Linked DNA regions of Homo sapiens. The protein of the gene in region 4 purifies or fractionates together with the protein of the main gene of each other region. This does not show direct contact. Each region holds a gene or a part of one and is shown on either strand. Other genes may lie near its edges. The genes, in order: ZER1, TKT, HIP1R, GOLGA4, ASAH1, UBR7 and THOC5.

Region 1 (3,500 bases), on a different chromosome or scaffold from region 4:
CTGCTTAGTTGTGTATGCGTCAGTATCTTCATCAGAAAATGGGGTAATAATCTCTATCTTGCAGTACTAGAGTAAGGGAATTCCAGCCACAGCAAACCTTTGTTCTATTAAACACCAGGCATAAATTGGGCACCGAAGTCAGACACCAAGGATACAGGTGCGTGCGCGCTTGCGCACGTGTGTGTGTGTGTGTGTGTGTGTGTGTGTGTGTGTGTACATGTGCATGGATGCAGGCATGCAAGCAAGCATACAGCTTCTGTCCTCCCAGAGCTCACAGGCAGTAGGAGGGTGTCAGTTGACAAATTGTTATGTAAATGATTAATTAGTTGCAAGTACAGGGTACTAGGAAATATTTTGTCGGTTGAGTAAGAGACTCGAGGGAGTAAAGCCTGTAAGGAGCTTAGGACCACATCTGGAAGCAGCCAACATGGACGTGGTATGGCGGTGCCTTCTGCTGCTGCTGCTGCTGGTGCTGTTTTTCTCTCTCTTCTCTCCCACTTCCTTCATTCCCCAGGATGTCGAATGTTCATGATAGACCTAGTATTAGAGAACATGCAAGAAAAGGGATGGAGAAAGACACAGGGTTCTCCCAGTGTGGTGGTCGGTCATAACCAGAGCTCCCTCTGTCCTCAGTTGCTGGAATTCCAGATGGCCTGTGACTGCCCTGAGAATGACAATCCCTAAGGAATGGAGTAGGTAGAGTGGAGTAGGTAGAGATGGCTGCCTCTGGCAGGTGCCAGGCCCGCAGCTGGATGGGTCTCAGGGCATGGTAGCCCCGGGGCCCTTCAGTCTCTGTGCCAGGATGTAAGATGGCTGCTTCCTCTTCCAGCTCATTCCAGCCCTGAGTGGCAAGGTCAACACTGCTAAGGGGAGGCTAGCAGATGGCGCCATCTACCTGGCTTATGTTTTGGGGGCTTTTGGTGACCGTGACAACTGACGTGGTGGTGTTTCTTCCACTTGGGGAGCATGGTAAGGGCAGAGCAGCTGCCTAGGTAACTGGGCTCAGACCTGCAGAAAAGGCAAAACCCCAGTGGCTCTCCCTCATTCAGAGCCTCCGAGCCAAGAGGCATCATTTGCAGCCACTGGGCGCCCAGCAGTGTCCTGAGTGCAGCAAGCAGGGAGAATGCGAGAGTGTACTATACCTCCCAGGCCTCGTGCAGACCTCTGATGGCGAGTACTTTGTCATTCCTTCCACAGGCCTTTGTTGAAACCTCACCTTGTGGCAGGCCCCACATTGAGTGTTCAGTGCTTCCTTTGTTCATTTAGCAAATAGTCATGGACCTGGGCCCGTAGTGCCAACGTCCCATGCACCCCCTCTCCTTGCAGCTTAGGTACTTCTTTGCTTCCTCCCAAAGCGCCTTCCCCTTCTCTCCCCTCCACCAGAGTTAACTAGGACTTATCTTTTGGGTCCCAGCTGAAATGTCACTTCTTTTTTTTTTTTTGATGGAGTTTTGCTCTTATTGCCCAGGCTAGAGTGCAATGGTGTGATCTTGGCTCACTGCAACCTCCGCCTCCCGGGTTCAAGCAATTCTCCTGCCTCAGCCTCCCGAGTAGCTGGGATTACAGGCGTGCGCCACCAGCCCAGCTTATTTTTGTATTTTTAGTAGAGACGGAGTTTCACCATGTTGGCCAGGCTGGTCTCGAACTCCTGACCTCAGGTGATCCACCTACCTCAGTCTCCCAAAGTTTTGGGATTACAGGTGTGAGCCACTGCACCTGGCCTGAAATGTCACTTCTAAGGATACCTGCTCTGACTCCCCAGTCCAGGGCAAGTCCCCTGATTGGGCATCCAGAGCCCCAGGCCCCTTCTCCTGCAAGACACTGGTCCCAGTTACGCGACAGGCGCTTATGGGCCCTGTAGGTGGATCTGTCTCCCTCCGGAGCCAGTACGCTCCATGTGGTCAAGGACCTTGTCCGGCTCGCTCACCAAGGACCCCCAGTGCTCAGCAGGGACTGAGTGAGCAGGTCCAGGGAGGTGATACCAAACAAGACAGCCTGGTTTTGCCCTCATGGACCTGGCCATCCATCAAGGATGCTGAATCATCAAAGCCACATCGTACCAAGTGTTCATTGCTGTGGTAGATCGGGCCTGTGGGGGGACTCAGCAGGCACACCCTGGTGGGTTAAGCATGGCTTCCCAGAGGAAGTAACTTTGACACTGGGACCATAGGTATCAGCTACGTGAAAGGAGAGTTCAAAGATCATGTGGGCTGGAGTGGCCAGGAGATACTTCCTGGAGGAAGGACATGGAGTGTATTTGGGTAGGGGAGGGGAGAAGGCAGTATTTAAATTAGAAAGTGCAGTAATTAGTTGAATTTGGATGGTCCTGGTTGAAAGAGAACAGACTGGGCAAAGGTCTGAAGGTGACCTGTGCCGAGGGCCTTTTGCCAGGACAGTGAATGATGAGGCCAGGCTGGCTGGAGTAGGGGGGCAGTGGGGACCAAGTAGGCCAGAAAGCTGGCTGTAATTCCGGTGGGCTTGAAAAGAGTTGCTTTCCAAGAGTGGGGACTCTCTGCCAGCAGTGCTCCCTCTGGTTCCAGTTTCCCAGGCAAGAGAGGCTGCTGGGCTCTTAAAGATCTTGAAGCAAATGAAGGCAAAGGAAGGCCATGCCCGGGGCCCAGGCATCCTGGCTTTTGTGCCTTCCCTCGAGGGTGCCATGCTGCCAGTGGGACAGCTGACACAATGAGCCTTGTTGTGGGAGACCCAGGCCGGGGAGCACAGGCCCGGAGCTGGGAGCCAGGGCAGATGAGGTAGGAGAAGGTAATGATTATAACAACAACATAATAACGGTTGTCTTTATTGAGCAATGACTACATGCCAGACACCGTTCTAAGCCCTTTTGATATTATTCCATGGAATCTTCACACCGTGCTGGGGATGAGGTATTGTGCTGCTTCTATTTTAGAGGAAAAGTGACTGAGGCACAGAGAGGTGGAGACACTTGCCCAAGTTTGTCTCCTCGTGAGCAGCAAGGCTGAAATGTGAGCTATGCCTGCCTGAATCCACAGCCCATCCACACACAGTCCCCAGTAGACAGTGGTGCCACAGTTGAACTCAGAACTGGCTGATTCCAAAGCCCAGTGTGCCCTGTGGCTTCCCGCTGGATTTCCTGAGCAGTCTGGAAGGTTTACAAATGGGCACAGAGGGAGGCTCCCAGAAGCTGGGACAATGCTGGGCCCCAGAACTCCAGAACCCTCTAAGTCAGGGGTGTCCAATCTTTTAGCTTCCCTGGGCCACACTGGAAAAGGAACTGTCTTGGGCGACACGTAAAATACACCAACACTAACAACAGCAGATGAGCTAAAAAAAAAAAAAAGTCCATAAATGTCATAATGTTTTAAGAAAGTTTACAAATTTGTGTTGGGCTGCATTCAAAGCTGTCCTGGGCCACATGCAGCCCATGGACCACAGGTTGGACAAGCTTGCTCTAAGAGATGTGAGGGATTCCACGAGACCAGGTTCCAGTCTAGTTTACACAGCTCCCTCTGTTTGACCTTGAG
Region 2 (3,500 bases), about 16 Mb from region 4:
GGTTGGACTTGAGTAAGAAGGAAGGAGGGGCCCAGGAGAGATCTAGCACAGAAGACTCAGCCCAAGGCTAGCACTGCGGCTGGGGGCAGCTGCTGTCAGGTAGAACCCAGTTCCCACCTAGTGGCCCCCAGGAGTCTAAGGACTCAGCAGCCAAGGGGTGCCGGCATTCCTACGACTGACCCCACATCCTGACAGGACTGCCCGGACACTGCCCACTTGTGAAGGGCACCCTGCCCTCTCAGCACCCAGGGGTGCTGGGCCTCTGAGCCCATGGGGCAGGGAGGAAGGGACTGAGGCTCATGGAGTTACCACAGACCTCCCAGCAGCCTCCACGCATGGGGTGTGGTAGCCTGAAAAACTGGGCCTTGGGCTTTCCAATTGCATCACTGGGCTACTTGAAAGCTTTAGAAATGGGCAGTTTGAGGGCTGCTGTAGCAACTAGGAAACAGGCTTTTGTGTAGAATTTTCAAAGCAAGACACATAATCTCATCTCCTACAAGGCTACAATCATGTATTAATAAAAACCCCTTCTGCCTATGGACAAGGGCTGAGGAAGGGCTGACAAAGCAAGAACCTGCCTTCCAGCCTGGGAGTGGTGGGGCCACGGAGTCCCCTTGGCTTTTTAGACTTGTTTTAATCACTGAGCGGCTCCTGAGCAATAGAAAGCGTAAACTTTCTATTGCTTCCTGCTTCCCAGCAGGAAGCGCTGCAGGTCCTGATCAGCCCTGAAGCCCTCTGGTCCCAGGGTTTTGTTAAAAGTTCAGCCTCAGGGCACAGGCCTCCCGGGAGGGCCCCTCCACATGCAGCTCAGCTCAGCTCAGCTCAGCCCTCTCGCTGCTCCCAGAGGTCCTTCACACGAAGACACGCCGCATGCCAAGCCCAAGGGCACATGCACCATCTGGAGCTCACGCCGCCAGCCTCCCGCCCCTCCAATCAGCGCTCCCACCAGGTTAGGGGTGAGTCACGCTCAGTGCAGACAAGTTAGTAGTAGAGAAATCCAGAAAACTGTCCATGCTGGTTTAGTACCAACATTCTCGCACACGATCATCTTATACTTAACTATTTCTATGAACTCCCGGTCATGGGAAAAGACACTACACCTGAAAGAGGGAGGGGAGGACATGGTAAACGAGAAACCCTTTTCTGCCTGGCAGGGACCCTAATCCCACGCTCCCAGTGCCAGCTTCAACTGGAGGCCACCCTAATCCCACGCTCCCAGGGCCAGCTTCAACTGGAGGTCACCTCAGGCTGACCTCTCGTCCTTCCCACCTCCAAGGGCAGCCCCGGCCCTGAGGGGTCCTGTTTCTAAAGCCATGGTCCCATTAGGAGGGATCCTTGGTGGGAGAAGGATGTGGGTGGACACTGGGCCAAACTGTTCCGGGGAAGAACAAGGACGGTAAGTGCAGGGCTCCACCTGCCCCATCCACCTCGACACCCCGGGGTGACAGTCCCATTGGCCACCAGAAGGGGTTCCAGGGAGAAATGGTGTGGCACAGGCTCTTTCTGTGTGTGGCAGAAGCACACCCAGGCCCAGATAGAGTAAACGTGGAGAGAGGAAGGTCAGCTGCGAGGTGACCAAGGGTGAGAAGTAGAACGTGCAGCTGATTTTAAGCCTTCCTTGCTAGGCCTGCAGCCTTTCATTCCTTCCAAAGGCTGCATCCAGCCTGCTGCGGCCACTCTCTTCACTTCTACCAAGTAAACACGCACAAAAGAAGAACGCTTAGGAGCCAGGTGTCCCCGCACTCTTCCCCAGAGCTTTTGGGGCTCTCCCTCGGCAGAGCATCCTGGGTTGGGGAGGTGAGCTGTGCCACTTGGGCTTCGTGACTTCAACAAGTGCTTCGTCAACCCGGGGCTCAGCTTCTTCACTTGGGAGAGTGTCTGGGAGACACAGTGAGATAACGCAGCATGCACAGTACCCAGGTCTCTAGCAGCCGCCACCACTGCCAACCCTCTCAGCACCTGCAGCTCTTATCTACAGGCAGGGATGGTGACACCACCCACTCCTGCTGGCCACAGGCAGGCAAGAGGGGAGAAATACACCAAGGATTGAGACCGGGCTCTGCACACTGTAAAGCACTGAGCACACAGGAGACAGTTACTTTCAAGCTCAACTTCCTAGCGGGCCTTTGGGGCCAAAGGCATACATTTAAGCCTGTGGCCTCCTCAGGGCCAGAGTTTTTCCTGCCATTCCAGACTGCCTGCACAACTGCAGGTGGACGCCCCATCCCGTGGTGCTGTGTGTGACAACTCTGGGTGAACACTGGCGAGAGATGGGGTGAGGAGCACGGTGGAGGGGCTACAGGGTACTTACTGTATACCCTGACTCTGTGATAAACAGGGCTAACAAGCACACTTGACTGTTCAAAAAAAAAAAAAAAAAACTAACACACCCTGCCTTGACCAAAACAGTCCACTTACAACCCCAATTAGTTCAACCTGTGACGGTGGTGTGGCAAGCTTAGAGCTAGGCCCAAAGAAAGTCTCTTAAAGCCCCCTCCAGGCTGGGGGCAGTGGCTCACACCTGTAATCCCAGCACTTTGGGAGGTCAAGGCAGGCGGATCACCTGAGGTCAGGAGTTTAAGACCAGCCTGGCCAATATGGTAAAACCCCATCTCTACTAAAAATACCAAAAAATTAGCCAGGTGTGGTGGTGGACGCCTGTAATCCCAGCTACTCGGGAAGCTGAGGCAGGAGAATCACTTGAACCTGGGAGCCAGAGGTTGCAGTGAGCCAAGATTGCACCATTGCACTCCAGCCTTGGCAACAAGAGTAACACTCCATCTCAAAAAAAAAAAAAAAAAAGCCCCCTCTCCACTCCCCTCCAGGACAATATATATTCTTCCAGATGTCCCCTGGCCAGGAGAATCTCTGTCATCGCTTTAGTGCTCACTCCACCTGCTCACAGGTTTCTATGCAAGAAAAGGCCAGAGAGGCTCCCTCACCCTCCAGATGGGCTCCTTCAAGAGATAATGGATGTCAGGTTGGGCGCGGTAGCTCACACCCGTAATTCCAGCACTTTGGGAGGCCAAGGCAGGCAGATCACCTGAGGTCAGCGGCTCAAAGACCAGCCTGGCCAACATGGTGAAACCCCGTCTCTACTAAAAATACAAAAATTAGCCGGGCGTGGTGGCACATGCCTATAATCCCAGCTACTTGGGAGGCTGAGGCAGGAGAATAGCTTGAACCCCGGAGGCGTGGGTTGCAATGAGCCGAGATCATGCTACTGCACTCCAGCCTGGGCAACAGAGTGAGACTCTGTCTAAAAAATAATAACAATAATGAAAATAATTTACCAAAACTGACTCAAGAAGAAATAGAGAACCTAAGTAATCTTTCAAGCATTAAAAATAAACCAGATCAGTAGCCGAAGATGCACATCCCTTAACTCCCAGCAACTTCACCAGTAGGAACATACAGTGAAATGTACTCACATGTTCCACACATTCTACAGGAAACACAAACAGGCCGGGCACAGTGGCTCACACCTGTAATCCCAGCAC
Region 3 (4,005 bases), on a different chromosome or scaffold from region 4:
AGGAGGAGCTGGGGGCCGTGGTCGACAAGGAGATGGCGGCCACATCCGCAGCCATTGAAGATGCTGTGCGGAGGATTGAGGTGAGCACGGGATCTGGGGACTCCCCTCATTCCTGTGGAGCTTTGGGGGCCGGAGGCCCCAACTGGGCTGGGTACAGGCTGCACCCACTCCTGCTCTCAGCCTCCAGACAGAGGACAGATGGCGTTTTCCAGGGGCCTGTGAGGTCAGAGCTGAGAGGGCAGGAGGCAGCCCTGGCTTTCCCAGGACCACGGTCCCCTCCTCCCAGCCAGCTCACGGCTCTGTTCTTGGGTGCAGGACATGATGAACCAGGCACGCCACGCCAGCTCGGGGGTGAAGCTGGAGGTGAACGAGAGGTGAGCCCCCCTTCTGTCCCCCCAGGCCCAGCCGAGGTGGGCTCCCCGTGGCCCCTAAGGTTCTGCCCCCAACTGTTCTGCTCACGGGAAAGGAAGGCCTGGCTCAGAGCAGACACTCCCTCCCCACCTGCTGAGCCCTGATGTGGCCAGGCCCGCCATGGCGTCGTGTGGGCTGCTCTGCAGAGCGGCAGCTAAGTCTCTCCTTCTCTCCCCCAGGATCCTCAACTCCTGCACAGACCTGATGAAGGTGAGGGGCTGTGACCCGGGGGGGTCTGCACCTGGAGGGCCACCAGTCATTGCTGTCTTGGTCTCGGCAGGCTATCCGGCTCCTGGTGACGACATCCACTAGCCTGCAGAAGGAGATCGTGGAGAGCGGCAGGGTGAGGGGCCGGCGGCAGCAGGGCACAGTCCACAAGGAGCCTGACCCCCAGCCTAGGCCACCCTGGGCATGAGACCCTCCACCCCCTACCACAGGGAGGCCTCAGGGATGCGCCCTATGGCCAGAGTGAGGGGGAGAGGGCCCTTGAGGGCCACTTTCCACCTTTGGTGTCCTTGACTGGCATGTCCTGCCCTGTTCTCCCGTCGCCACTAGGGGGCAGCCACGCAGCAGGAATTTTACGCCAAGAACTCGCGCTGGACCGAAGGCCTCATCTCGGCCTCCAAGGCTGTGGGCTGGGGAGCCACACAGCTGGTGTAGGTTGCCCTGGGTGGGGGGGGGCAGGGGGCTGCTTCCTGCCAGTTGGAGCAGTTTGGGGTTCAACAGGGTGCAGGGAGTAGAGGGGGTGTGGAGTGGTGCCAGCCGTCCGTGGGGTCAGAGACCCTGGCCCTGACTGGCCCTTGACCCGCAGGGAGGCAGCTGACAAGGTGGTGCTTCACACGGGCAAGTATGAGGAGCTCATCGTCTGCTCCCACGAGATCGCAGCCAGCACGGCCCAGCTGGTGGCGGCCTCCAAGGTGAGCTTGCACGCCGACAGCAGCACACTGGGCTCTGGGCCCAGCTTGGCCTGGGCTGTGGCTGCCAAGCCCAGGCCTGCTGCTGCCCTGAGCTGGGAGACCTGGGCCCACCCTGACCTCTCGCCCCTCAGGTGAAGGCCAACAAGCACAGCCCCCACCTGAGCCGCCTGCAGGAATGTTCTCGCACAGTCAATGAGAGGGCTGCCAATGTGGTGGCCTCCACCAAGTCAGGCCAGGAGCAGATTGAGGACAGAGGTGAGTGCCAGATGCCAACGGGGGCTGCTGGCTCCCGAGGCTGAATGGGGGTGGGTGCCCAGATGTTCACCCCCTTGTCCTCCGGCCACAGACACCATGGATTTCTCCGGCCTGTCCCTCATCAAGCTGAAGAAGCAGGAGATGGAGACCCAGGTAGGCGCCCATGGCTGCCCCGTGACCTCTGAGCTCATCCCTCGGGCGAAGCCTGGACCCAGGAGAGAGCTCCCTGGGGAGGCTGGGCTGGGCTGAGCAGGCCGTGTGGCTACAGGTGCGTGTCCTGGAGCTGGAGAAGACGCTGGAGGCTGAACGCATGCGGCTGGGGGAGTTGCGGAAGCAACACTACGTGCTGGCTGGGGCATCAGGCAGCCCTGGAGAGGAGGTGGCCATCCGGCCCAGCACTGCCCCCCGAAGTGTAACCACCAAGAAACCACCCCTGGCCCAGAAGCCCAGCGTGGCCCCCAGACAGGACCACCAGGTGCCGTCTGCACTGGGATGGGGGAGTTCCTGGACGGGGGTGCTGTCCCCAGCCCTAGAGGGGCACATGGTGCACGTCCCTGGGGAAGTCAGGGACCACTGACAACATGCAGGGAGGAGCTTGCTCAAGGGAGAGGTGGGGCCCCAGGTGCCTGGCTGTGACCACTGACCCCCCACCTTTAACCCCTGCAGCTTGACAAAAAGGATGGCATCTACCCAGCTCAACTCGTGAACTACTAGGCCCCCCAGGGGTCCAGCAGGGTGGCTGGTGACAGGCCTGGGCCTCTGCAACTGCCCTGACAGGACCGAGAGGCCTTGCCCCTCCACCTGGTGCCCAAGCCTCCCGCCCCACCGTCTGGATCAATGTCCTCAAGGCCCCTGGCCCTTACTGAGCCTGCAGGGTCCTGGGCCATGTGGGTGGTGCTTCTGGATGTGAGTCTCTTATTTATCTGCAGAAGGAACTTTGGGGTGCAGCCAGGACCCGGTAGGCCTGAGCCTCAACTCTTCAGAAAATAGTGTTTTTAATATTCCTCTTCAGAAAATAGTGTTTTTAATATTCCGAGCTAGAGCTCTTCTTCCTACGTTTGTAGTCAGCACACTGGGAAACCGGGCCAGCGTGGGGCTCCCTGCCTTCTGGACTCCTGAAGGTCGTGGATGGATGGAAGGCACACAGCCCGTGCCGGCTGATGGGACGAGGGTCAGGCATCCTGTCTGTGGCCTTCTGGGGCACCGATTCTACCAGGCCCTCCAGCTGCGTGGTCTCCGCAGACCAGGCTCTGTGTGGGCTAGAGGAATGTCGCCCATTACTCCTCAGGCCTGGCCCTCGGGCCTCCGTGATGGGAGCCCCCCAGGAGGGGTCAGATGCTGGAAGGGGCCGCTTTCTGGGGAGTGAGGTGAGACATAGCGGCCCGGGCGCTGCCTTCACTCCTGGAGTGAGTTTCCATTTCCAGCTGGAATCTGCAGCCACCCCCATTTCCTGTTTTCCATTCCCCCGTTCTGGCCGCGCCCCACTGCCCACCTGAAGGGGTGGTTTCCAGCCCTCCGGAGAGTGGGCTTGGCCCTAGGCCCTCCAGCTCAGCCAGAAAAAGCCCAGAAACCCAGGTGCTGGACCAGGGCCCTCAGGGAGGGGACCCTGCGGCTAGAGTGGGCTAGGCCCTGGCTTTGCCCGTCAGATTTGAACGAATGTGTGTCCCTTGAGCCCAAGGAGAGCGGCAGGAGGGGTGGGACCAGGCTGGGAGGACAGAGCCAGCAGCTGCCATGCCCTCCTGCTCCCCCCACCCCAGCCCTAGCCCTTTAGCCTTTCACCCTGTGCTCTGGAAAGGCTACCAAATACTGGCCAAGGTCAGGAGGAGCAAAAATGAGCCAGCACCAGCGCCTTGGCTTTGTGTTAGCATTTCCTCCTGAAGTGTTCTGTTGGCAATAAAATGCACTTTGACTGTTTGTTGTCACTGATGCCCCAGAGGGAGGGGCTGTGCCTGGCTCTTCATTCCTCCAGGGACACGTGTTCCCTTGTCGGCCCTGGCCAGGTGCTGGGGCGGGGACCTATTCATGTCTGCATTTAATGCTAGAGTACTTGGGACTGCAGAAAAGCTCAGCAGGGCTGTCACTGGCTGTGTGTGTGTCCGCCTTCCATCTCTCTCTCGGGGGATTTATGGGCCTCAGGGCCCTCCTTTTACACAGGAGGCCAAGAGCCAGCTGCCTCCACAGAGGCCACTTGCACTCCCAGCCTCAATGCCCACAGCTTCCCTGGGGCTCCTAGCAGTTGCTGACCCCCTCAGTGTGTCTGAGACCATGCCTGACTGACAGTTGCTAAGCTAAGGTGGGGACCCTGACTCCCGGCTGGCTTGGACTTGAGCCATGGCCACACACAGCCTTTGCACTTACCGGAAACCTGGAAAGGTGTTCAGTCCCTGGGTGTGTGGCAGCCTCACAAGCACCCACTTTACCC
Region 4 (3,500 bases):
CACTCCAGCCTGGGAGACAGAGCGAGACTCCGTCTCAAAAAAAAAAAAAAAAATATGTTTTAACAACAAATACCTATTTTGGATTTTTAAACTCCTTAAAGAACTAAGTCAATAAAAGAAACATCAAGAAGTAATACAGACATTGTAATTTCTTGGGATATATGTAGTACATGAATACAAATATTTTAAAACATTTTTAGCCTTTTCAAGTACTTCTAAAACTTAAAAATTATAGAAGTATAGATACAAAAGGATGAATACATGACTCCACTTAATTGAGGTACCTAGAGTAGTCAAATTCTTAGAGACAAAATAGAATGGTTGTTGCCAAAGGCTGGAGAGAGGAGAGAATGGGGAGTTACTGTGTAGTGGGTACAGAGTTTTAGTTTGGAAAGATGAAAACGTACTGGTGATGGATGGTGGTGATTCCACAACAGTGTGAATGTAGTTCATGCCACTGAATTGTACAGCTACAAATGTTTAAAATGGTAAATTTTATGTTATGTATATTTTTAAAAAATCAACATATACGCCCCTCCTTATGCCTGCAGAATCATCCCTTATTTTTTTCCCTCAGCTCAGAGATGGCAGCTGACCTCACTCTTTTAGAGTGAGACCCCAAAATAATAGTTTATGTGATATAAATTTAAAAAATAAAAACAAAAAAACCAGCAAACAGTTCCACAGATAACAGGGAAAAGAGTCCTTTCTGAAGGGACATAGCCTTATTGTAAATCCAAGTTTACTAAATAGTTTCAGTCTTGAAATTGGGGAAAGCATGAGTCCCAGAGAAAACATTTAGATCAGAAGGTAGTTTATTAAGAACATGATGAAAGGCTTTAATAAGTTTGGTACCTAAAATATAAAGGTTTATTTGAAGAATTAACCCCAAGTTACTTTGACTGCTCTTTTAGAACTGGGATGTCAAATTGATTTGGCAGTGACTTACAACAGTGCTGTGATGAGGATTCAATGGCTGTGTCTCTGCTGTGACTAATCCATAGGTGTTGTAGGGAGAGTGAAATGAACCAGATGTTAGTTATGAACAGTGAATGCCTAGGTCCTCTGCTGGATGTTGCATTTGCTTTGAAGGGTCTATGTAGTCCCTACACAATGGAGTTGAGAGACAAGTACTTTCAGTGTAATAGTGATATATACAGGGTGTTGTAGTTGTGCAAAATAAGGCATTTCTGGAGAAGATCAGGGTGACATCTGAGTAGAGCCTTGATGGATAATGAAAAGTCATGGTATAGGGACAAGGGATTCAAGGCTTATTCCTAAGGATGACTGGATTAGTTTTCTAATATTGCATAACAAGTTACCACAACCTTAGTGCCTAATAACCCAGTTATTATTTTATAGTTCTGTAGGTCAGAAGTCTGGCATGGCATGACTGGGTTCTCTGCTCAGGGTCTTGCAAGGCTAAAATCAATATGTTGTCCAAGCTGCTTTCTCATCTGGAGCTCAGGATCTTTTTGTATGCCCATGTGGTTGTGGTAGAATTCAGTCCTTTCTGGTTATAGGACTGGGGCCTTCATTTCTTGCTGACCACTTTCGGCTTAGAGGCTACCAGCAGCTCCTTGCCACGTGCCCCTGTAGGCATTTTGCTTTCTTTCAGGACAGCAGAAGTACGTCCCTCTGCCCTCTAGACCCATATTTGAAGGGCTTATGTAATTAGTTTAGACCCATCCAGGTAATCTTTTGATGAACTCATGGTCAACTGATTAGTAACCTAGTAACCTTAAATATGCCTTTAAAATCCCTTTGCCCTGTAATATAACAATTATGAGAGTGATAGCTCATTATATTCACAGGGCAGGGGTCATTTGGGGTCATCTTACAGTTTTGCTTATCACAATGACTAAAATGGTTTTTCTTAAGTTTTTGTAGAGTCAGGGTCTTACTGTGTTACTCAGGCAGTCTTGAACTCCTGGCCTCAAGTGATCGTCTTGCCTTGGCCTCTCAAAGTGTTGGGATTACAGGCATGAGCCACTGTGCACAGCTAAAATGGTTTTTCTTACACTGAAATTGAGTATAACTGTGGTCAGTTAATAATTAGGCAGTGGGCAATAAAATATTAATTGTGGGTCTGGATGTAGCTGTCAGGTTTTTTGGTTAACAGCTTAGAAAGCTGACTCAGATTTCTTATGGCTATTGCAATTAATCAGCTCAAGTTTGGTTTGAAGGAACCTAAATCCCTTTATATCTTGAAGTGAGGATAGCCCATTAAGGAACCAGGCACCTGGGACAAATGCTGAAGTACAGTTAGTTCTTTATGCACTGTTATATACTTTATACTCACATCCATTTTCTCATATAATTCTTACTCTTGTAACTCCAGAGGAAGATCCAGAGGAAGATCAACAAGTCATCAGGCCACGTTTTGCCAGATAGTACTACTTTTCTAGGGAGAGTATGTTTTAGAATCTGTTAAACTTTGTAAACCCCGTTATTTGATTTTTTTGTCAGTTTCTCCAGAGCTGATGAGGCTCTCAGTTACTGATTAGACCATATGAGGCCAAGGTGTAAGACGTAATGCCAATTTTTCAGATTTGCAGTGAGGTATACTTTTTAAGCAGTTGGAAGGTCACTGTCTAAGGTAGCCCTTTCCTGGCATCTGGATATTTGGAAAGCTGAATTAATAACCCAGAGATTTCTTAGACATGATAGAATCACAACAGAGAGAGTTGATTAGTCAAGAGGTATTTCCTGTGGTCTAGTAGTACTTTTCTAACTTTTTACCACCCAGTGACCATTTTATTAAAGGAGTTCTTAGATATAATCATTTATAAATACATAGATACAAAAGGCTGCCCCCATAGTGGCAGCCTTTGAGGCACCTACAGCCTTTGAAGCTGGCACTGGCATGGTTTGCAAATTATGGCTCTAGGTGTGGGAAGGGTTTATTGAATTTATCTCAACTTTAATGAAAGCTATTTCTGATGTTCTTTGAACATTTGTAATTTGAACGTGGTGTTCAAGGTAGGCTCAAACTTATTCCAAGACTGAGACTAATACTACACAGTGACTGTGCTTTCCCTTGCCATTTTCTAAGTACAATGTTGACTTTTAGTCACATATTTTCTAGACATTTAAACCATTGCTAAGGCTTCAACTTTATTTCACATTGATTGATTTTCTTGTTTATATGCTTTTTTTTTTGAGACGGAGTCTTGCTCTGTCACCCAGGCTGGAGTGTAGTGGTGCAATCTTGGCTCACTGCAACCTCTGCAGTTGAAGCAATTCTCCTGCCTCAGCCTCCTGAGTACCTGGGATTACAGGCGCACAACACTACTCTTGTTCATGTTTTTAAGTCCTTATTCTTCCTGTTTTGTCTTTGGTGGGAGAGGATATGTCATCCCTTAAGGTGACTTCTGCACATAGCTAATTTCATCTGTTGTATTGATTTTTCTGGTTCATCTTTTAGAAGGTGTTGGAGTTCTTGGTTGTAAGCAACAAAAAGTCAATCTAGGTAAGCAGAAAAATAATTTATTGAAGAC
Region 5 (2,308 bases), on a different chromosome or scaffold from region 4:
TCATATAAAATTAGCTAAAGTCTCACCAAATAACTAAAGCAAACAACTTCAACAGGATCACTGTTTCAGGTAATGAATATAAACAGGCTCAGGAAAGAATCTCCAGCTCCTTATAGGAGCTTATTCCTGACAGCACATTGCTCCACCCCCAATGCTTTAAGACTGCCTTAACCCTCCTTGACGCACAGCTGGCAGTCCTGGGAGACCTGCCGGTGTCCTATGGAGTAAAAACCGTGGAGCTTTGGCTATCCCTATCCTTAAAGCATTTCCAATACAGTGGGGGAAACTGCAGGCACCCAGATCACAAGGCACACACCCAAACACAAGTCACGAGATTGTGACTTGCTCAAAGATGGTATAGGCAAAACGCAAGTATGGCAGGGCCCGTGAACTGAAGGCAGGCTTCCTGTGAGAGCCAGGGTGACCTGGATGCTAAAGGCCGGAGGGATTTGTCCTGGCAGGGTAAAGGCGGCATGTTTACTTTAGGGAGAGCTGTGGAGAAGGACCAAGAAAAGAAGGAACAAATGGGAAAATTAGGGGGGCATATTCAGAACGTTCAGGGAATGATTGTTAGCGAGTGGTGGGATGATAGGAAACTTTTTGCATTTTTTTAAAACTACAGTGTAGGGAAAAGATAAACAGATGTAGTAAAGTTTAAGGGAAACCCGAACCCACCAAGACACAGAGCTCTGTCTGAAAATGGACTGCAGACTTTGTTTTGTTGACATTTAGGTGTTAGTTATATAGTGTGAGATTTTTAATAGATACCAATAAGAGTAAAATGCTAGCCTTAATTCAAATGCTATGTAAATAAAGCTATAAACAATATTCTGACCTATCAAGCCTCAGTGATCAATTTCTTTCTTGTATTCCAAAATACAGTTTTAGCCACACAAAAACATTTTTTAATAAAAAATCAGTCCTAAGCTGAACACACCTTTTGTGCTCAAACTGATCAAAGATAACAGAGAAAGATAAAACATAGGGCCAAATTCTTTCCCTAAAAGGCAAATATACATATAACATTTAAAATACCTTGTTGAGGACAGGTTTTGTTGACAGGACATCATACATGGTTTCAAATGAGATATTCTAAAACACAAGAAAATAGTTTTGTTCAGTAAGTTAAATACAGAAGCCAACAGCCTTATCTACACACATGGGCCACCAGAAACCAAGACATTCTTTAATCAACCTCCCCTCCATCCCCGCAGTGGAGTTTCTGTGGGAGTCACTGTTAGAAACACAGGTAACAGTTTTAATGGATTACTTTCCTCTCTCTCCTTCCCCTTTTTTAAATTCTTGCCTGTTTGTTATTCAACTTCAGAGTGGTATCCAGCATTAGAACCAGAAAAGGAAAGTACAGCACAATTTTGCTCTTTAAGTTAAGAAAACGAAACAAAAAAATCAGTGGAGAGTGGCTAGAGATACTATGAAAAATAGGACGTTTATAAATTACTTGAAGGCCAAAGAAAAATGCCAGAACCAAGGGAATCTTTAATGGCAACAGTTTCTTTCTATAGATGACCCTGCAAAGGTACCTCTTGGCTGGTGCGGTTCAGACACATCTTTGCAGGCGTTCTGCGATCATCAAGGAAGAAGGGATGTTTCCAACGGTCATAATTTGTTTGTACCACATACCATCTACCCTGCTTAGCATCGAGTCTAGATACAAAAGGAGAGATTCCCTCTTAGGCTACATGCCTTAAAACTCAAAGTATATCAGTGTATGCTTTTGTTTCTACTTCTTTTGCTTTAACAAACCTACTTACTCATATACATCCAATGATTCCTTTCTGTCTCGTGTAATCACACAACCTTCCCCAGACTGGTTGCCTCCCAGGATAAAGTAGGCTGGGGCCAATATCTTGGTCTTGGTCAATAAATTCTTGGCTTCTTCATAACTATATAGAAACATTTAAAAAGAAAAATGAAACTTTTTTTTAATTTTAGTAAATAACTTCATTTATTTTTAAATTTTACTTTAAGTTCTGGGACACATGTGCTGAACGTGCAGGTTTGTTACATAGGTACACACGTGCCATGGTGGTTTGCTGCACCCATCAACCCATCATCTAAGTTTCAAGCCCTACATGCATTAGGTATTTGTCCTAATGCTCTCCCTCCCCTTTCACCCCACCCCCTGACAGGCCCTGGTGCGTGATGTTCCCCTCCCTGTGTTCACGTGTTCTCTTTGTTCAGCTCTCACTTATGAGTGAGAACATGCAGTGTTCGGTTTTCTGTTCCTGTGTTAGTTTGCTGAGGATGATGGTGGGAAACATTTTTAGATGACTTAGAACGGAAATGT
Region 6 (3,500 bases), on a different chromosome or scaffold from region 4:
CAGGAGTTCGAGACCAGCCTGGCCAACATGGTGAAACCCCTTCTCTACTAAAAATAGAAGAATTAGCTAGGCATGCTGGTGCATGCCTGTAATCCCAGCTACTTGGGAGGCTGAGGCAGGAGAATTGCCTGAACCCAGGAGGCATAGGTTACAGTGAGCAGAGATTGTGCCACTGCACTCCAGCCTGGGCAACAGAGCAAGATTCCGTCTTGAAAAAACAAAAAAACCCAATGAATGAGAACTACACATAGATAGGTTCAGCATCTGTGGACAGTGAGAGAGATCACTGGAAAGGGTGTGAACAGAAAGGGAGCAGCACTTAAGAACTCTGAGGCAAACTGGCCGGGCGTGGTGGCTCATGCCTGTAATCCCAGCACTTTGGGAGACCGAGGCGGGTGGATCACTTGACATCAGGAGTTTGAGACCAGCCTGGCCAACATGGTAAAAGCCTTGTCTCTACTAAAAATACAAAAATTTGCCAGGTGTGGTGGCATGTGCCTGTAGTCCCAGCTACTCTGGAAGCCGCGTCACAAGAATCGCTTGAACCCAGGAGGCAAGGTTGAGGTGAGCCGAGATAGCACCACTGTACTCCAGCCTGGATAACACAGTGAGACTCTGTCTCAAAAAAAAAAAAAAGGCAGAAAAACAAAAGAACTCTAAGGCAAATCTAAACTGTAGGATGAGATCAGAGGTATGGCTATGCTGCTCATGGTTTGTATGGTGAACTGGTCTCTAAAGATGAGAAAGGCAAGAAATTATGAAGCCTAAGCAGCAGATACCATGAGTAACTGCCACCTTAAAAATAAAGAAATACATAAAGCATTACCAATAAGATAGTTAATGCCTCAGGACCATTCATTAATTAGTTGTTTTGATTTAATTTCTTAGTGTATAATAAAAGCACCAGATAGACTGGGCATGGTGGCTCATGCCTGTAATCCCAGCAGTCTGGGAAGCCAAGATGAGTGGATCACTTGAGCTCAGGAGTTCAAGACCAGCCTGGGCAACATGGTGAAACACTGTCTCTACAGAAAATACAAAATTAGCAGGGCATGGTAGTGTGTGCCTGTAGTCCACTTTTATAAAGGCACTAATCCCATTCACGAGGGCTCTGACTTATAAAAGAGGCCCAAGCGAGCTTGTTTGCCCCTTTTAACAGGTACGGACACGTAGAAGGATCTGTCTATGAGGAATGGGCCCTCAACCAAACACTGACTCTGCGGGCACCTGAATTTTGGACTTCCCAGTCTCCAGAACTGTGAGAAATATCTGTCTATTGTTTATAAATTACCCAGCCTAAGGTATTTTGTTTTAGCACCCCAGACAGACTAAGACACCACCTCCTCCCCAACTGATACCATGTGTTAGAATTAACAACTTATTTCAGTTCTATTTATCTTTCAAAATCCCATTCAAAAACTGCCTCCTCCATTCTCTAACTCTGGTCTCATCAATACTCTGCATCATATCATTTAAGTATAAATTTGTTTTTGGTAGTATCCCAACAAATCTATGCACCTTGTGGAGAAAGAACACATACTATTCTTTTTTTTTTTTTTTTTTTTTGAGGATGGAGTCTTGTTCTATTGCCCAGGCTGGACTGCAGTGACGTGATCTCGGCTCACTGCAACCTCTGCCTCCTGGGTTCAAGTGATTCTCCTGCCTCAGCCTCTGGAGTAGCTGGGATTACAGGCAAGCGCCGTGACGCCAGGCTAATTTTCATATTTTTAGTAGAGATGGGGTTTCGCCATGTTGGCCAGGCTGGTCTCGAACTCCTGACCTCAGGTGATCCATCTGTCTTGTTGGCCTCCCAAAGTGCTGGGATTACAGGCGTGAGCCACCATGCCTGGCCAGAACATATACTATTTTATAACCACAGAGCCCAGTTAAAAATAGTTGCTAAAAATTCTGAATTGAACATACAAATTTCACAAGCACAAGTTTGTGGCACACCAACTTCACAAAGATACCTACCTGCCAATTGTGCAGCATAAGCCCACAAAAAAGAACAACGTTTCATGCAGGCCTGGCATACCATCTCCTGAAAATCCCCACTCTCAGGGGGAATGGCACCAAGATGCTGTGAATATAGAACACCAAAAATTTTCTTGTGATTGCCAAATTGTCCAAAATGCCCATTATTTTATAAATACTGTAATAATACACTGATCATATCATTAGAATTTATTTTTAGAAGACTAATTATAATGTAAAATATAACCTTTATCTTTTTGTGACAACAATGGTTTCAAAAGGTGGAACATTTTCCTTACCCTTCCATGGAACCAGTCTTCACAGACTACGCACTGGATCATCTCATCTGGAATCTAACAGAGAAAAGCAGTTTGTTAAGGATTACATTGAATTCGGGAACATGGAAATAACCTGGCACACAGTAAAATAAGATACTAAATATTTGTTCTACATGAACTGGTGTTCCAAAGGCTTACATTGAGATAAGCACTTTACAAACAATCTCAAGGCTCTTTCACATCCATTACTTAATATCTGATTCTCACAAAACTGTGTAGACAAGGAGGGCATTCCCATTTTATACAAAACTCAGGCCCAGGCAAGTAATGTGAATGGACCAGTGCAGACAGTGACAACTGGGACTTTTTACCACACCATCCTTTAATACAATATTCAGTTGTATTACTGTATAAGGATGTTCACTCCAGCCTTCTTTATAATATTGAAAAATTAGACAATGCCTTTCTGCTGCAGAAGAACCATCCTGCCAAGTACACTGAAAAGTAAATGTTATGAAAAACCTCGATAGATAACTCCTCTAATTTGAATAAATTAAATAATTAAATGCTGGCCCTAGGAAAATAATATACCAAAGGACATAGACTATTTTGGGGATGATTTTCTTTTACTCCCAGGCTCTCATAACTGTTAATTAACATCCCAATGTTGTTCTGTCCTTTTCCTATCGTAGGCTTCTTAAAGGGAATAAAAAAGCACATATTGTGGAACAGGAGGAGCTGTAACACTTTACCACATGCCTTAAAATATCCAGTTTTGGCTGGGCGTGGTGGCTCACGCCTATAATCCCAGCACTTTGGAAGGCCAAGGTGGGTGGATCGCCTGAGGTCAGAAGTTTAAGACTAGCCTGGCCAACATGCTGAAATCCTGTCTCTACTAAAAATACACAAATTAGCCGGGCATGGTGGCGAGTGCCTGTAATCCCAGCTACTCAGGAGGCTGAGGCAGAAGAATCGCTTGGACCTGGGAGGCAGAGGTTGCAGTGAGCTGAGATCGCACTACTGTACTCCAGCCTGGGTGACAGAGCGAAACTCCGTCTTAAAAAAAAGAAAAAAAAAATCCAGTTTTAAGGTTTTATTTTTGTTAACTCAAAGAGACTTTCAATCTGTCCCTCTATATAATTTGGTTCAATAATTATAGTTCCAACGCAATTAGAAAGCAAGGAAGAAGGCAGAAGACTAATATCTCTAAAGACAAAAAGTACTCTTTCAAATCGGTAAATACCCAGA
Region 7 (3,500 bases), on a different chromosome or scaffold from region 4:
GGTTTATCTGCTATGACAGGCCAGACGCTGAGTCCTGGCAGAAACAACACAATATGCTGCGTTCTTGAGAAGCTGTGTCCAACTCCTGAGGAAAGGCAGGCTTCTGCTAAGGGGCCAGGCCCCCTGGATTTCTGCTCATGCCTCATATTTGGTACTTGCACACAAGAACAAGGGCAGCAGAGCCTGCAGACATGAGTCCCAGAGCAAGGACTCAAGTTGCCTGGGTCTAAAAGGCTACTAGGCTCAGAGAAAATGCAAAAGGTACGTAAACTCTTGTAAGTCTAAGACATTTTAGTGTCCTGAGTGGATAGAAGACAGGTCACAGCCCTGAGGGGACACATTCTGCCAGTTCAAAACTCCAAAGGCCATGACAGGCCTTTTTTTTTTTTTTTGAGACGGAGTTTTGCTCTTGTTGCCCAGGCTGGAGTGCAGTGGCATGATCTCAGCTCACCGCAACCTCTGCCTCCCTGGTTCAAGTGATTCTCCTGCCTCAGCCTCCTGAATAGCTGGGATTATAGGAACGTGCCACCACACCCAGCTAATTTTTTGTATTTTTAGTAGAGATGGGGTTTCATCATGTTGGCCAGGCTGGTCTCAAACTCCTGACCTCAGGTGATCCACCTGCCTCAGCCTCCCAAAGTACAAGGATTATAGGCATGAGCCACCGCACCTGGCCTGGCCTTTCTAGAGTCTATACAGGAAGAGAAGAGGTAAGCTCCTCAGCCAACTAGATGAGATCAGTGTACAGACCTGGGGCTGCTCTTTGGGGAAGTGGAGGCCACCCAGCTTCTGCACCCACAAATAGGGGTGACCTAGCTCAAGTACATAGTCGCTCAAAGTCAGGATGCTGCAGAAAAGAAGATAAATAAAATTGTGCTGTAAGTCATTTCTGCTGTGGTCCCAGGATACAGCCTCCTCCCACCCTCCCATGCCCCACAAACCATCCAGTCCTGCAGGTTTGGCCATGTTCACAGCCAGGCTGCTGGCAAAGCCCTTCAACTTTGTCAGTTCCCTACTGTGAATTTCATCTCTCTCACATTCACTTTCCTCTTTTTCCTTTTCTTCTTGCAGCCTTCAACTTATAAGCAAATATCAAATACAAAGGCAGTGTACTAATGTCTTTATTGGTCTACCAATTTAGAAAATCTTTTAAAAATTAATCCTCGGATAATTAAAATGTCAAACATTTTTATTGTATCACGTATTATTATGCTTCCAGAGGGTTTTTTTTGTTTTTCTTTTTGTTTTTGTTTTGAGACAGGGTCTGGCTCTGTTGCCCCCAGGCTGGAGTACAGCGACATGACCATGGCTCACTGCAGCCTCAACCTCCTGGGCTCATGCAATTCTCCCACCTCAACCTCCCCAGTAGCTGGGACTACAAATGCCCACCACCATGCCTGGCTAATTTTTGTATTTCTTGTAGAGACAGGGTTTTGCCATGTTGCCCAGGCTGGTATCGAACTCCTGAGCTCAAGGAATCCACCTGCTTTGGCCTTCCAAAGTGCTGGGATTACAGGCGTGAGCCACCACACCCAGCATGTTTCCGAGTTTTGATCCTTCCACCCTTTTTGTGATCTCCCTTTGCCTTGTAAGCAAGAAAGAACAAACATTTCCTTCTACCCTGTGGTCTTTCCTATCCTCTGGGTCACCTCTGGCCCTAACAGGTCTCCAGCATTTAGCTTGAGCCACCAGAGAAACTCAGAAGTAGAGAGCTCGGAGAGGAGGAAACTGCTGACTCACCCAACTTTATCAAACTGATACTGATTGGCTGGATTCGGAGTTTTCTTTCCATGATCCCCAGGATACAAGCAACTCAGGACTGAGTCAGGAGACAGCAAGTCACTAGAAAAGGAAAAACAGTAAGCAGTGAGAATGCAGCCAACATCTTTCTTCAACATAGGCTTGGGCATTTGGGGATGGTAATGCCACGTCTCACTGATGACCAATGCCACCATTTATTGAAGGCTTTCTGTGGGCCAGACCGTTTATATGCTTGAGGTCATTGCATCCTTACAACCCTATGAGGGAGGATTATCATTTCCATTTTATAGAGGAAAAACTCAAGGCTTTAAAAGATATGGCTTATTCAAGATCACACTGCTAGTAAGTGCTAGAGGTGGCTTTATATTGTCTGATCAAACAGACTAGTACTCTTAATCATTAATTTTTAAAAAACTCATCCCTTCAAGATTTATATGGTGCCTAAGGCCTTACCTCAGGGGAGCAAAGTCCCATGACACCATCAGTAGAAATAATTTCAATTTTCATAAAAGCAGAACAGACTCCTTTCTGCTACAGAGAGAACAAGTGTATAGCTTTGGTGCTATGTCTATCTCACTTTGACCAAATCTTATGCTCATCACAGGAAAAGGCCCCCTGTATGTTCCCAGAAAAAGATACAATCACATACACTGGAGACCCACAGCTACAAGCGGAGAGAAATAGTGACGCCACTGCCACCCACCTGGGATGGTTCGGGCACAGTTTGTCATTAAATGTGACAAGCAAAAAAGAGATAATGTGGGAGGGTAATGTAGTAATTTTATCACAAAGGATGACAAGGCCCATTCTTTCCCTGAACCAAAGGGGGTTCTCCTTCATCTTTCCATGGATAACGTCAGGAGCAACTTGGGCAGCACGTGCCGGTCCTGCGTTTTGGCCCCAGCATGCCTTCAGGAACTCCATGCTAGGACAGTGGAGGCTTCCAGCTCTTCCCTACTGTGTCTCACTGAGTATCCCTGTTCCCCAAGGTCTTTGCCCCCTTCACCACCTCAAATGGAGAACTGACTACCAAACAAATAAAACATTTCAGGCCAGGCACAGTGGCTCACGCCTGTAATCCCAGCACTTTGAGAGGCCGAGACGGGCGGATCATGAGGTCAGGAGATCGAGACCATCCTGGCTAACACGGTGAAACCCCGTCTCTGCTAAAAATACAAAAAAAAAAAAAAAATTAGCTGGGCATGGTGGCGGGCGCCTATAGTCCCAGCTACTTGGGAGGCTGAGGCAGGAGAATGGTGTGAACCCGGGAGACGGAGCTGGCAATAAGCCAAGATTGCACCACTGCACTCTAGCCTGGGTGACAGAGCGAGACTCTGTCTCAAAAAAATAAATAAAATAAAATAAAATAAAATAAAATAAAACTTTTCAGTCTTTTAGCAAGTGTTTAGGGACTATTACTAATAGATTGATTCAATCTATTAGTAAATAAATAAAACAGAACTAAAACTGCCCACGATGAAGGTTATTAATTGACAAAACCTGATGAAGGAATCACCTTCTTGGCAAAATTTATATCTGCAACATATGGCTAAGACAACTGAACTTGGTAAAAATGATGAACATAAAAGGAAAGGCTATTTATAGTCATAAAAATATAACACCAAAACAAAAAAACTTCTCAACCAGTCAAATCTTTGTTATAAAATTTTGATAAAAAGTAAGGGATTAAAAAAACCTTAGTGGCCGGGCGTGGTGGCTCACGCCTGTAATCCCAGCAC

Evidence for each region.
Region 1: the proteins of GOLGA4 (region 4) and ZER1 purify together in Homo sapiens (affinity purification with mass spectrometry; 3 studies listed by BioGRID and IntAct, with this or other methods). This does not show direct contact.
Region 2: the proteins of GOLGA4 (region 4) and TKT purify together in Homo sapiens (affinity purification with mass spectrometry; one large-scale study listed by BioGRID and IntAct). This does not show direct contact.
Region 3: the proteins of GOLGA4 (region 4) and HIP1R fractionate together in Homo sapiens (co-fractionation; one large-scale study listed by BioGRID). This does not show direct contact.
Region 5: the proteins of GOLGA4 (region 4) and ASAH1 fractionate together in Homo sapiens (co-fractionation; one large-scale study listed by BioGRID). This does not show direct contact.
Region 6: the proteins of GOLGA4 (region 4) and UBR7 purify together in Homo sapiens (affinity purification with mass spectrometry; 2 studies listed by BioGRID and IntAct, with this or other methods). This does not show direct contact.
Region 7: the proteins of GOLGA4 (region 4) and THOC5 fractionate together in Homo sapiens (co-fractionation; one large-scale study listed by BioGRID). This does not show direct contact.

The regions. Positions count from the first base shown.
Region 1 is NC_000009.12:128,761,928-128,765,427, reverse strand, and holds part of ZER1 (protein zer-1 homolog), read left to right. Parts: intron 1-3,500. UniProt on the Homo sapiens protein: Serves as substrate adapter subunit in the E3 ubiquitin ligase complex ZYG11B-CUL2-Elongin BC. Acts to target substrates bearing N-terminal degrons for proteasomal degradation with the first four residues of substrates being the key recognition elements.
Region 2 is NC_000003.12:53,242,523-53,246,022, forward strand, and holds part of TKT (transketolase), read right to left. Parts: intron 1-3,500. UniProt on the Homo sapiens protein: Catalyzes the transfer of a two-carbon ketol group from a ketose donor to an aldose acceptor, via a covalent intermediate with the cofactor thiamine pyrophosphate.
Region 3 is NC_000012.12:122,859,457-122,863,461, forward strand, and holds the end of HIP1R (huntingtin-interacting protein 1-related protein), read left to right. Parts: coding exon 1-80; intron 81-315; coding exon 316-374; intron 375-590; coding exon 591-621; intron 622-691; coding exon 692-754; intron 755-966; coding exon 967-1,067; intron 1,068-1,222; coding exon 1,223-1,328; intron 1,329-1,459; coding exon 1,460-1,583; intron 1,584-1,674; coding exon 1,675-1,736; intron 1,737-1,851; coding exon 1,852-2,058; intron 2,059-2,249; coding exon 2,250-2,297; 3' UTR 2,298-3,505; downstream 3,506-4,005. UniProt on the Homo sapiens protein: Component of clathrin-coated pits and vesicles, that may link the endocytic machinery to the actin cytoskeleton. Binds 3-phosphoinositides (via ENTH domain).
Region 4 is NC_000003.12:37,246,271-37,249,770, forward strand, and holds part of GOLGA4 (golgin subfamily A member 4), read left to right. Parts: intron 1-3,427; exon of another isoform or gene 3,428-3,472; intron 3,473-3,500. UniProt on the Homo sapiens protein: Involved in vesicular trafficking at the Golgi apparatus level. May play a role in delivery of transport vesicles containing GPI-linked proteins from the trans-Golgi network through its interaction with MACF1. Involved in endosome-to-Golgi trafficking.
Region 5 is NC_000008.11:18,057,800-18,060,107, forward strand, and holds part of ASAH1 (acid ceramidase isoform a preproprotein), read right to left. Parts: intron 1,905-2,308; coding exon 1,773-1,904; intron 1,666-1,772; coding exon 1,542-1,665; intron 1,093-1,541; coding exon 1,036-1,092; intron 1-1,035. UniProt on the Homo sapiens protein: Lysosomal ceramidase that hydrolyzes sphingolipid ceramides into sphingosine and free fatty acids at acidic pH.
Region 6 is NC_000014.9:93,213,756-93,217,255, reverse strand, and holds part of UBR7 (putative E3 ubiquitin-protein ligase UBR7), read right to left. Parts: intron 2,328-3,500; coding exon 2,274-2,327; intron 2,081-2,273; coding exon 1,975-2,080; intron 1-1,974. UniProt on the Homo sapiens protein: E3 ubiquitin-protein ligase which is a component of the N-end rule pathway. Recognizes and binds to proteins bearing specific N-terminal residues that are destabilizing according to the N-end rule, leading to their ubiquitination and subsequent degradation.
Region 7 is NC_000022.11:29,519,258-29,522,757, forward strand, and holds part of THOC5 (THO complex subunit 5), read right to left. Parts: intron 1,843-3,500; coding exon 1,741-1,842; intron 848-1,740; coding exon 751-847; intron 1-750. UniProt on the Homo sapiens protein: Component of the THO subcomplex of the TREX complex which is thought to couple mRNA transcription, processing and nuclear export, and which specifically associates with spliced mRNA and not with unspliced pre-mRNA.